Linked DNA regions of Homo sapiens: region 2 is linked to region 1. The links come from fine-mapping of genetic effects on gene expression. A gene starts in region 1. The other region holds a variant in brackets. All regions are shown on one strand. Distances are between the middles of the regions.

Region 1 (4,512 bases):
TGCAGAATTTGGAAACTATTTGTGAGTGTTCTTAACTTACGGCAATATAGTTATTTGCATAAGTGCAGTAAGAATCTGTTTTTCCTTCTTTCTTCTTTTTTTTTTTTTGTAACAGGACACAATTGGAGAAACTGGTTATTTAACAAGGGTTTGACTCGAGTGGCATGCTTTCAAATATAAACAGACTTCTTTAAGGAATTAAAGTTGACTAATAGAGCCAATAAAAGCCTCTTGGAAAAACTGGTCTTGTACCTTGTGTATGAAGTCCCTGTATAGGGTTCCTGACCTGTGGTAAGTAAAGAATGTAACTTTCTGACAGGCCTGGGAGCCCCGAGTTATCTCGGGACCTCAAGAGGAGAGGAATTTATCTAACTCATACAGGTTCTTGCAGGCATAGGTAAATCCATGGCTGGGCTCAAAGCTTTAAAACATCTAATCTAAGATACCTTATGAAACAAAGCCAATTTTAAAAGGAGCCTGTATGGCAAATAATTATACTTGCTGCACTTTATGCAAATAATGAAGCCAAGTATAATAAGACTAAAGCTTATTTTGCAAATAAATTGGTCCTACCATGATTTGTTTTTAATAAAAAATGGGAGACTGGAGAGAGAAAAACGGTGTTTCAAAAAATATGGTACACCTGTCATAGATTCTAGTCTCATCCATTGTTTTTGAGTTTTTTGTCTGCAATTTAGACTGACCTTGCTTCTTTCTGTGAACCAAACAGTCATCTCTTGACTGCTTCTCGTCAGAAACAAGAGGGATGGATAACATAAAAATCTGGATCAGTATCTAATTCTGAGCATGTATTGGAATCGTCTAGCAACTCCGTATCAGCTCATCTAGCAATTCCTGTGACTAAGAATGCCTAACCTCCTGGGAATGCAGCCCAGTAGGTCTCAGCCTCATTTTACCCGATAAGTCACAGGCATTCTTGCCCAGTTCATGGAAAGCCTTCTTATTTGGATTACTTGGGATAATTTTACTTATTTTACTTTGCTGTTGTAGAATATATTGCTGCTATACTCTTTGTGTAAGAATGCAAGATAAGCTTACTCAGTGCTTCCTTAAATTGAACACATTAATCTTCCAGATATCACCTTTTGTTAGGACTCAGAGTTACAAATGACTCTGAACACACCAACATTTTCTTACTCAGTTCCTCTCTGCACCAAACCCAAGAGACTCTAATAGTTAGGCAGGAATATCATCGCCTCTATTCAGCCTGAAGAAGTTACAGAAGATGGATCTTCATGCCTCTACAACCCTTAAGATTAAACGTTCCCTCGTAAAAGAGAGTAGGGAAATATGTCAGAGGTGTTCAAAATAGGGCAACTCCATCTTGAATAGGGGCTGGGTAAAATGAGGCTAAGACCTGCCAGGCTGCATTCCCAGGAGGTCAGGCATTTGTAGTCACAGGAAGGGATAGGAAGTTGGCAGGACTGGTATCACAAGATACAGGTCATCAAGACCCTGCTGAGAAACAGTATGCGGTAAACAAACCAGCCAAAACCTGCCAAATCTAAGATTGCAATGAAAGTGACATCTGGTCATCCTTATTGCTCATTGTATGTTAATTAAAATGTGTTAGCTTGCTAAAACACACTTCTACCAGCACCAAGACAGCCTACAAATACCATGGCAATGTCCGGAAATTACCCTATATTGTCTAAAAGGGGGAGGAAGCCTCAGTTTCAGGAAATTCCCACCCCTTTCCTGGAAAACTCATGAATAATCCACCCCTGTTTAGCATAGGATCAAGAAATAACTATAAAAATAGCCAACTAGCAGTGCTTGGGGGTGCTCTGCCTATGGAGTAGCCATTCTTTTGTTTCTTTGCTTCTCTAATAAACTTGCTTTCACTTTGCTCTGTGGACTTACCCCAAATTCTTTCTGGTGCAAGATCCAAGAATTCTCTCTTGGGGTCTGATCAGTACCCCTCTCTGGTAACACTTGCATGATACCTGAGGAGGTCAGCCTGGTCATTCACCCAACAAACATGGGTTAAGCCCTCCCATGTGCCTGGCACAAAGGGGGCTGAGGACTGCAGTTCTGGAACACCTAGGCTCTGAGAGGCGACGCGACTGTGGTAGCAGGGCCAGGATTCTAGCCTGTGCCTGGAGGGCCAACACCTGCACCTTCTCTGCTACCCACCCTGCCTCTGTGACTCAGAGCAGTTAAGCACTTTAGCTCAGGGTGGACTCAGGGCTGCCTCCCCCTTCCTGAGCAACCTAGGGGCTCCTGTGCCCCATGCCTGTGTCCATTTCCCAATCATCAGGGGGCCTCAGACTCCTGCCTGCTCTGACTTTCTAGGCCTTTGAATCAAGCAAGACCCCACTGGATCACCAAAGAGTTAAGCAAAGGAAATCCCTGCCTCCCTTTATCTCCGCAGAACCCAGAGGCTGAAAGGGAGGGAGCAGGGAGGAGGGGAAGTGGGAAGCGGCTCTGCCCTCTCCCTCCGCCCTCCCTCCGCCCTCTCTCCCTCCATCCCCTCCTCTCTCCCTCCTCTGCTGGGCCTGGGGGTCTGGGCCAGCAACAAGTTAGTATTGCAGACATGGGCCAAGGAGCCAGAGGCCATGCAGTGGCTCAGGGTCCGTGAGTCGCCTGGGGAGGCCACAGGACACAGGGTGAGTGACCAGAGGCTCCTCAAGCTTGGGGGCTGGGGTCAGAGCCTGGAATTCCTCTCCTCCCTCCTTGCTTCCTGGAAGCATCTCGGGCCCTGCTCTCTCCCTCTGACTGGGACAGCCTCTCCAGGCTCTCCCCTCCACATTTCCTCCTGCCTCTGGCTGAGGGCTGCGCTCCACTGCTCCCGGTTTGTGCCCGCCCCTACCCGGGCACACACAAACTCAGCTCTGCACGGCCTGCCTGGACCGAGAAAAGTTGCCCTGCCGCTCCCTCCCCAAAGAGGTCCCAGTGGAAGCAGCAAGGACCCCAAAAGTCCTCCCTATGACTTGGTTCCCACACTTGGTCCCTGCCTGGCACCCACCCCCAGAGCTAGTTCGTGATCCTGGCTGTGGTTATGATTCCTCGTTAACGGCTTCCTGATTCCTGCTCCCAGGCCACGGTTCTGTGTCTCACAGCCTTTGACTCCCATCCGCTGGGGCCAATAGGAAACAGAAATGCTCCCAAACCATGCCAGTCCTCTGGGAGAAGTTCTCCTTCCCATCCCATGCAGGCACAGGGAAGAAGTCAAAGCACACTTTTTTTTTTTTTTTTAAGTCTTTTATAAGGCAGGCACTTTTCCTGCATTGAAATCCTTCCAAATTACCTGGGAGGGAAAGGGTGGTGTCATTTCCTTGTAAGTATCAAGGAGCAGGAAGCCCAGAGAGGTTCAGCCACTAGCCCTAGGTCACACAGCTTGCAAACTATTCTGGGTCTCAGATTTGACTCTAAGACCTCAGCTTTTCTCATGAGGTCATATCTGTGGCTGGGAAAAAGAAGGGAATTTTGGGATTTCCAAAACCACTGGGATTTGTCATTTATAAGTAAAAGTTGAGGATGACAGTCTCAGACAGGGAGGATGTTGATCTCTGAGGATTTGACCTCCTTATTGAGCAGAACCAGGAACCCAACCAGGGTGGGCAGAGAGAAGCTTGGGAAGAGTCACCTCCAGGAAGAGGGAGGTGGCTCTGGAGACTTCCTGTCCAGCCCCCTTCTCCTGCTGCTACCATCCAGCTCTGGGGGTGGGGGGCAGGGCTCCTGCCGCTTTATTTATTTTTAGTTTTAATTTTTGAAAAATAGAGACAGGGTCTCACTATGTTGCCCAGACTGGTCTCGAACTCCGGGACTCGAGTGATCCTCTCTCCGTGGCCTCCCAAAGTGCTGGGATTGCAGGAGTAAGTCACTGCACCTGGCCATCCTGCCCCTTTAAAACTCTGCCCTCACCTCAGTGCTCAGCTGAGACAGGGTGGCATTTTAAAAAGTAATAATTGTACCTTGTCTACATGTATTAACCACAAAAAAAATATTTTTGAATTCTACTAAATGTTAAAGGAGAACAAAAAGGAAATAAACAAAGAAACGCCAGAAGTGTAAAAACCAGTCTGGTTTCAAAAGCAGAGTTTCTGATCCTGTGATAACTCGGCACCAGCCCCCAGAAGCTGCACCACCTCAAAGGTCTTTTTGCCCGGCTTCCTGCCCACCCAACCCAGGACTGTCTCTAGCGCCTGGTGTCCAGGCTACTTCCTGCCTCTCTCCTGGAGCCCTAGACCCCTTCTTGGCCAAGGCCAGAGACAGATCCTCACCAACACTTACACTTTTCTGATCCTTTAGAATTTTTTATACCTCCTAGTCCTACCCCTTAATTCCAATTTACCACCTTGGCATCTGATTGGCAGGTCTACGATGATTGACACAACCATCTTCCAATGAACTAACTCTCTCTACAGAACCCTCCCTGCAGGGCTTCTGGATAAGGTTGGGTTGCATAGATAGTTGACTGCACAAAGGTGCTGAGCAGGGAGGTGGACTAGCGCCAGCCCTTGCCAAGCTGCACACCCTCAGCATCAC
Region 2 (4,257 bases), 35 kb before region 1:
CTTGAGCAAAGACCTGGAGGTGGGAATGAGCTGTGAGCCAGGAAGGCGAGAGCTGTGGATTCTGCATGTCCCCAAATTCTCTTTCCCTGCTTATCTTCCTTCCAGGTTGCACCCCAGCGCTCCCACCTAGATGGGTCTGATCCTCCAGGATCCCCACCCAAAGCCTGATGGCACCCCGGCTGGCCATGCTGTCCCCTCCCTGTGGCGTTTCTTAGCAGATGGCTGCAGAGCTTCGTTGATGGTCTTTTCTGTACTGGAGGCCTCCTGAGGCCAGGAACGTGCAAATTTGCAGGTGCTGCATCCCAAGCCCCTCATGCTCCTGCCTTCCTGAGGGCCAGAGGGGAGCCCCAGGACCCATTAAGCCACCCCCGTGTTCCTGCCGTCAGTGCCAACTGCCGCATGTGGAAGCATCTACCCGTTCACTCCAGTCCCACCCCACGCCTGACTCCCCTCTGGAAACTGCAGGCCAGATGGTTGCTGCCACAACTTGTGTACCTTCAGGGATGGGGCTCTTACTCCCTCCTGAGGCCAGCTGCTCTAATATCGATGGTCCTGCTTGCCAGAGAGTTCCTCTACCCAGCAAAAATGAGTGTCTCAGAAGTGTGCTCCTCTGGCCTCAGTTCTCCTCTTTTGGAACAACATAAAACAAATTTAATTTTCTACGCCTCTGGGGATATCTGCTCAGCCAATGGAAAATCTGGGTTCAACCAGCCCCTGCCATTTCTTAAGACTTTCTGCTGCACTCACAGGATCCTGAGCTGCACTTACCTGTGAGAGTCTTCAAACTTTTAAACCTTGCCAGTCAGGACTTTTGCTATTGCAAATAGAAAACCCAACTCAACCTGCTTAAGCAGAAAATAAATTTATTGATTCAAGTTTGGAGATATCGTGATTTCAGGTGCAGCTTGATCAAGGTATTCAAATGATGTCATCGAGGCTTGTTTAGCTCTGGGCTCTGCCTTCTGCTGGCTGGTTCATTCTCAGGCAGGCGACTTAGGGCTTCATCCTCCCAAGTTCAAGTTCAGGGTTTCATCCTTCCAAGTTCAAGTTCAGGGCCTCATCCTTCCAAGTTCAAGTTCAGCCAAAAAGAGCAAATGTCTATCCCAGGCAAAGTTCTAACTAAGATTTACTGTGATTGGACCAGCTTAGGTCCTGGGCCCCCTTTTAACCAATCATATTTGTCAGAGTGGTGCAGTGCTGTGCTCTGACTGGCCAGGCATGGACCATATGCCATGCTGGAACAGAACTGCGGCAACCCCAGCGAAAGCGTGTGTACTGGGGGGGAGGGTGAGTTCCAAAGTGGGCTGAGAGCCTGGCGGGAATTTGGGAATTTGGGCGAGAAACCCTCAACCTCCACTACTGGAGGTCATGGGAAAGTGTTCATTTCAGCAGTGAAATGAAACAATGCTGGACCCCGAAGGTGATAAGCAAAGGGGAGTTTCTTTAAAAGAGAGGCGGGGTTGTTGTGAGGATTTAAGAAGTTCCGACATGGGCACAACAGTGCCTGCACAGTCAGTCCCACCTCAGGACTTGCTAAGTTCTGTGGAGGTGCCAGACCTCCCCCTCCTGCGGACAATTACTCTCCTCTATCTCAACTTCTCACTCATTCATCAAACACACATTTATTGAGCACCTCTTCTGTGCCTGGCACTGTTCTAGGTGCCAGGGATCCAGCAGTGCTCAGAAGTCCCTGCCCTCAGGAGGCTGACACT[C/T]TAGAGAGGCTAAGAGATCTAAGAGGCTGCCCCTGACAACCCAGAAGACCCCAATTTCCAGCCCATGAAATGCTTGAGTTTCCACATTGTGCTTTCCCAGAGCTCCCAGCCAACCCCACTATCCCCATTAGTCCCCATGTTCTGAGGCAGGACCCCCTCCAGCTCACTCACCTCCTGGGAGCCCCCCTTAAAAGGGATTAGGTGCAGAGGGGAAACCCCTTTGCTTTTCTTAGTTTCAGCTCAAAGTCATGATGTTTTCAAAGTTACTTCTCTTCTGAAACAGAAAGGAAATACTAAACCCCACCCATCCATGGCACCATACAGATGCAGGCGGCCAGGACCCCACTCCCTAGTATGTTCGATGTCTAAGATCCCTGAGGCACCCCCTGAGGTTGGCCAGAGTCTGAGGGAGCCTCTTTCTGATCCCTCCTCTTCACAGAGCCTTGGGATAAACTCCAGAGCCTCCGCAACAAACCATGGCCCTGAAGGTCTGGCCATCCTCTGCCTCCCACTCTTATTGCACTCGTGCCTCTACCATCAGACTGGACTGTCATTTCTTCCACTCCACATTCATGCTTCTTTCATTCCAGGCCTTTGAACATACTGGACCCCTTTCCTTTGCTCCTGGAACTTCCCTGCAGGGCAAAGGTGGGCCCGGATCTCCTTCCATGTGTGTTCAGCCCGTTAGGTCGACCCCAGTAGAGACAATCTTTGCTTCTATATGATAATAATGTCAGTAAATAACTTCCTTTACTCATTGTCTTGGCTCCCATGCACATATTATCTCATTTAATGTTCTAATAGCCTTCCAAGATAGGTACTCTTAGCCACGGTTTGCAGAAGAGGAGATGAGGATGCGGGAGGGCACAGGTTTGGCTCAAATTGACAAGGCAGATGCTGTCCTTTCCCACCCTCTCCCTCTGTTCCCATCCTCCTTGCTAACAGAATCCTAGTTTTGTGCATAGCAGCACCGTACCTAACACCAACAAAATACTCGTTTTTCCAGCTGGTTTTGTCACTGGGGTTTTCAGGCCACATAGTTCTGGCCTAGAAGCCGATGTGAATGAAAGTCAGCGGGAGAGATGGCTTCTGTGAAAGTTGTTTTCTTCCTTAAAAAAATGACAGGCCCAGGCCGGGCGCGGTGGCTCACGCCTGTAATCCCAGCACTTTGGGAGGCTGAGGTGGGCGGATCACGAGGTCAGGAGATCGAGATCATCCTGGCTAACACGGTGAAACCCCGTCTCTACTAAAAAATACAAAAAAATAGCCGGGTGTGGTGGTGGGCGCCTGTAGTCCCAGCTATGCGGGAGGCTGAGGCAGGAGAATTGTGTGAACCCGGGAGGCGGAGCTTGCAGTGAGCCGAGATTGCGCCACTGCACTCCAGCCTGGGTGACAGAGCAAGACTCAAAAAAAAAAAAAAAAAAAAAATGACAGGTGGGATGTCTGGAGCTGCAGCAGCCGTCTTGTGAGCTTGAAGCCACAAACATGAAGATACAAGGCCCCGTGCTGAGAGGGGATGAGCAGAAAGATAAAAGGAGCGTGAGTTCCTGGCAGCAGCAGTGGGCAGCTGAGCCAATGCTAACAGCTGCCTTGTTATGGGAACTGAAGAAAATGAAACCACCCAATTGTTAATGTCACCGTTGGTCACACCTTTTGTTACGGTAAGCTGACAGCATTTGTCACTGAAGCGGTAGGACTCCTAGCGCAGTGCTCTTCCCACTGTATAACTGTTCCCAGCAGCCACTCCAAGTGGGGTGAGCCACTTGTTTCTGCTCTGCAAATTGGCTGAGGATGGAGGCCCCTCATATAGGAAAGAGAAAGCTTATGGGAAGTCAATGAGAACCTGTTTTGAAACAGGAAGACCTGCCGGTTGTGGGCAGGAGCTGACACCATGGTTTGCTCTTTCATGTGACAACAACCCCTCCCAAGTGCCCACCTAGTGCCAGGCCTGGGCTGGCAGCAGGTTCCATGCCTCACTTCGCCCCTTCTTGCAATGAAATCATGGCCTGGTGGTTGAGGAAAGTGCCTGCCAGACAAGGCCACTTCATCTGGTGCTTTCTATTCTAGAGACTGGCTGTTCCTTGTCCCTTCTTCAAAGCGGAGGCCTGGGGTCCCCCAAACTCCTCCGATCCTTTCACCCTGGCATTCACTGGCCACCAAGCTTGGACAATTCAGCCTCTGTCTATTAAATCCACCCCTTGTCCCCACGGCTGCTCCCTAACCTAACCCCTGCCATGTCTCCCCTGGACAGTAGCCACAGCCTCCTCACTGGCCTCCTGTCTTCCCTCTCTCTGCCTCTACTCCATTTGCCACCAGGTGGCCTGGGGATTTTCCTCATTTACAAACAACTGTGCAGTCAAAAATGCTGATAGAACCACAGACTTATTCAATCATTGAATCCTTCAGCAAATAGTTATTGAGACCGTGTGTCAAGCCCAAGGCTTGGGGGTGGGTCAAGCATGAGCCCGCTCTCAGGAGCTCACAGGCCAGTGGGGAGGCTGTCCAGCCAGCAGAGAGCCCCAGGAAATGGCCCTTCTGCTTGGAT

The links. PIP is the estimated chance that this variant, and not a neighbour inherited with it, causes the effect.
Region 2: its variant is the best candidate, but not a certain one, in a credible set for the expression of C1QTNF6 in whole blood (INTERVAL, PIP 0.68).

Annotation. Positions count from the first base shown.
Region 1 is chr22:37,186,281-37,190,792 of GRCh38, reverse strand. C1QTNF6 (C1q and TNF related 6) reads left to right here and starts at 2,546. Exons shown (of 3, transcript NM_031910.4): 1 at 2,546-2,630. The coding sequence starts at 2,580. IL2RB-AS1 (IL2RB and C1QTNF6 antisense RNA 1) reads right to left here. Exons shown (of 2, transcript NR_199008.1): 2 at 3,971-4,512. RefSeq lists enhancers at 903-1,536, 1,537-2,172, 2,173-2,806, 2,807-3,442.
Region 2 is chr22:37,221,888-37,226,144 of GRCh38, reverse strand. RAC2 (Rac family small GTPase 2) reads left to right here. Exons shown (of 7, transcript NM_002872.5): 7 at 106-875. Among named protein-coding and RNA genes, the nearest start is that of SSTR3, 12 kb to the right of the region's middle. RefSeq lists a silencer at 3,223-3,362. The variant C/T (reference allele first, on the strand shown) is at 1,713.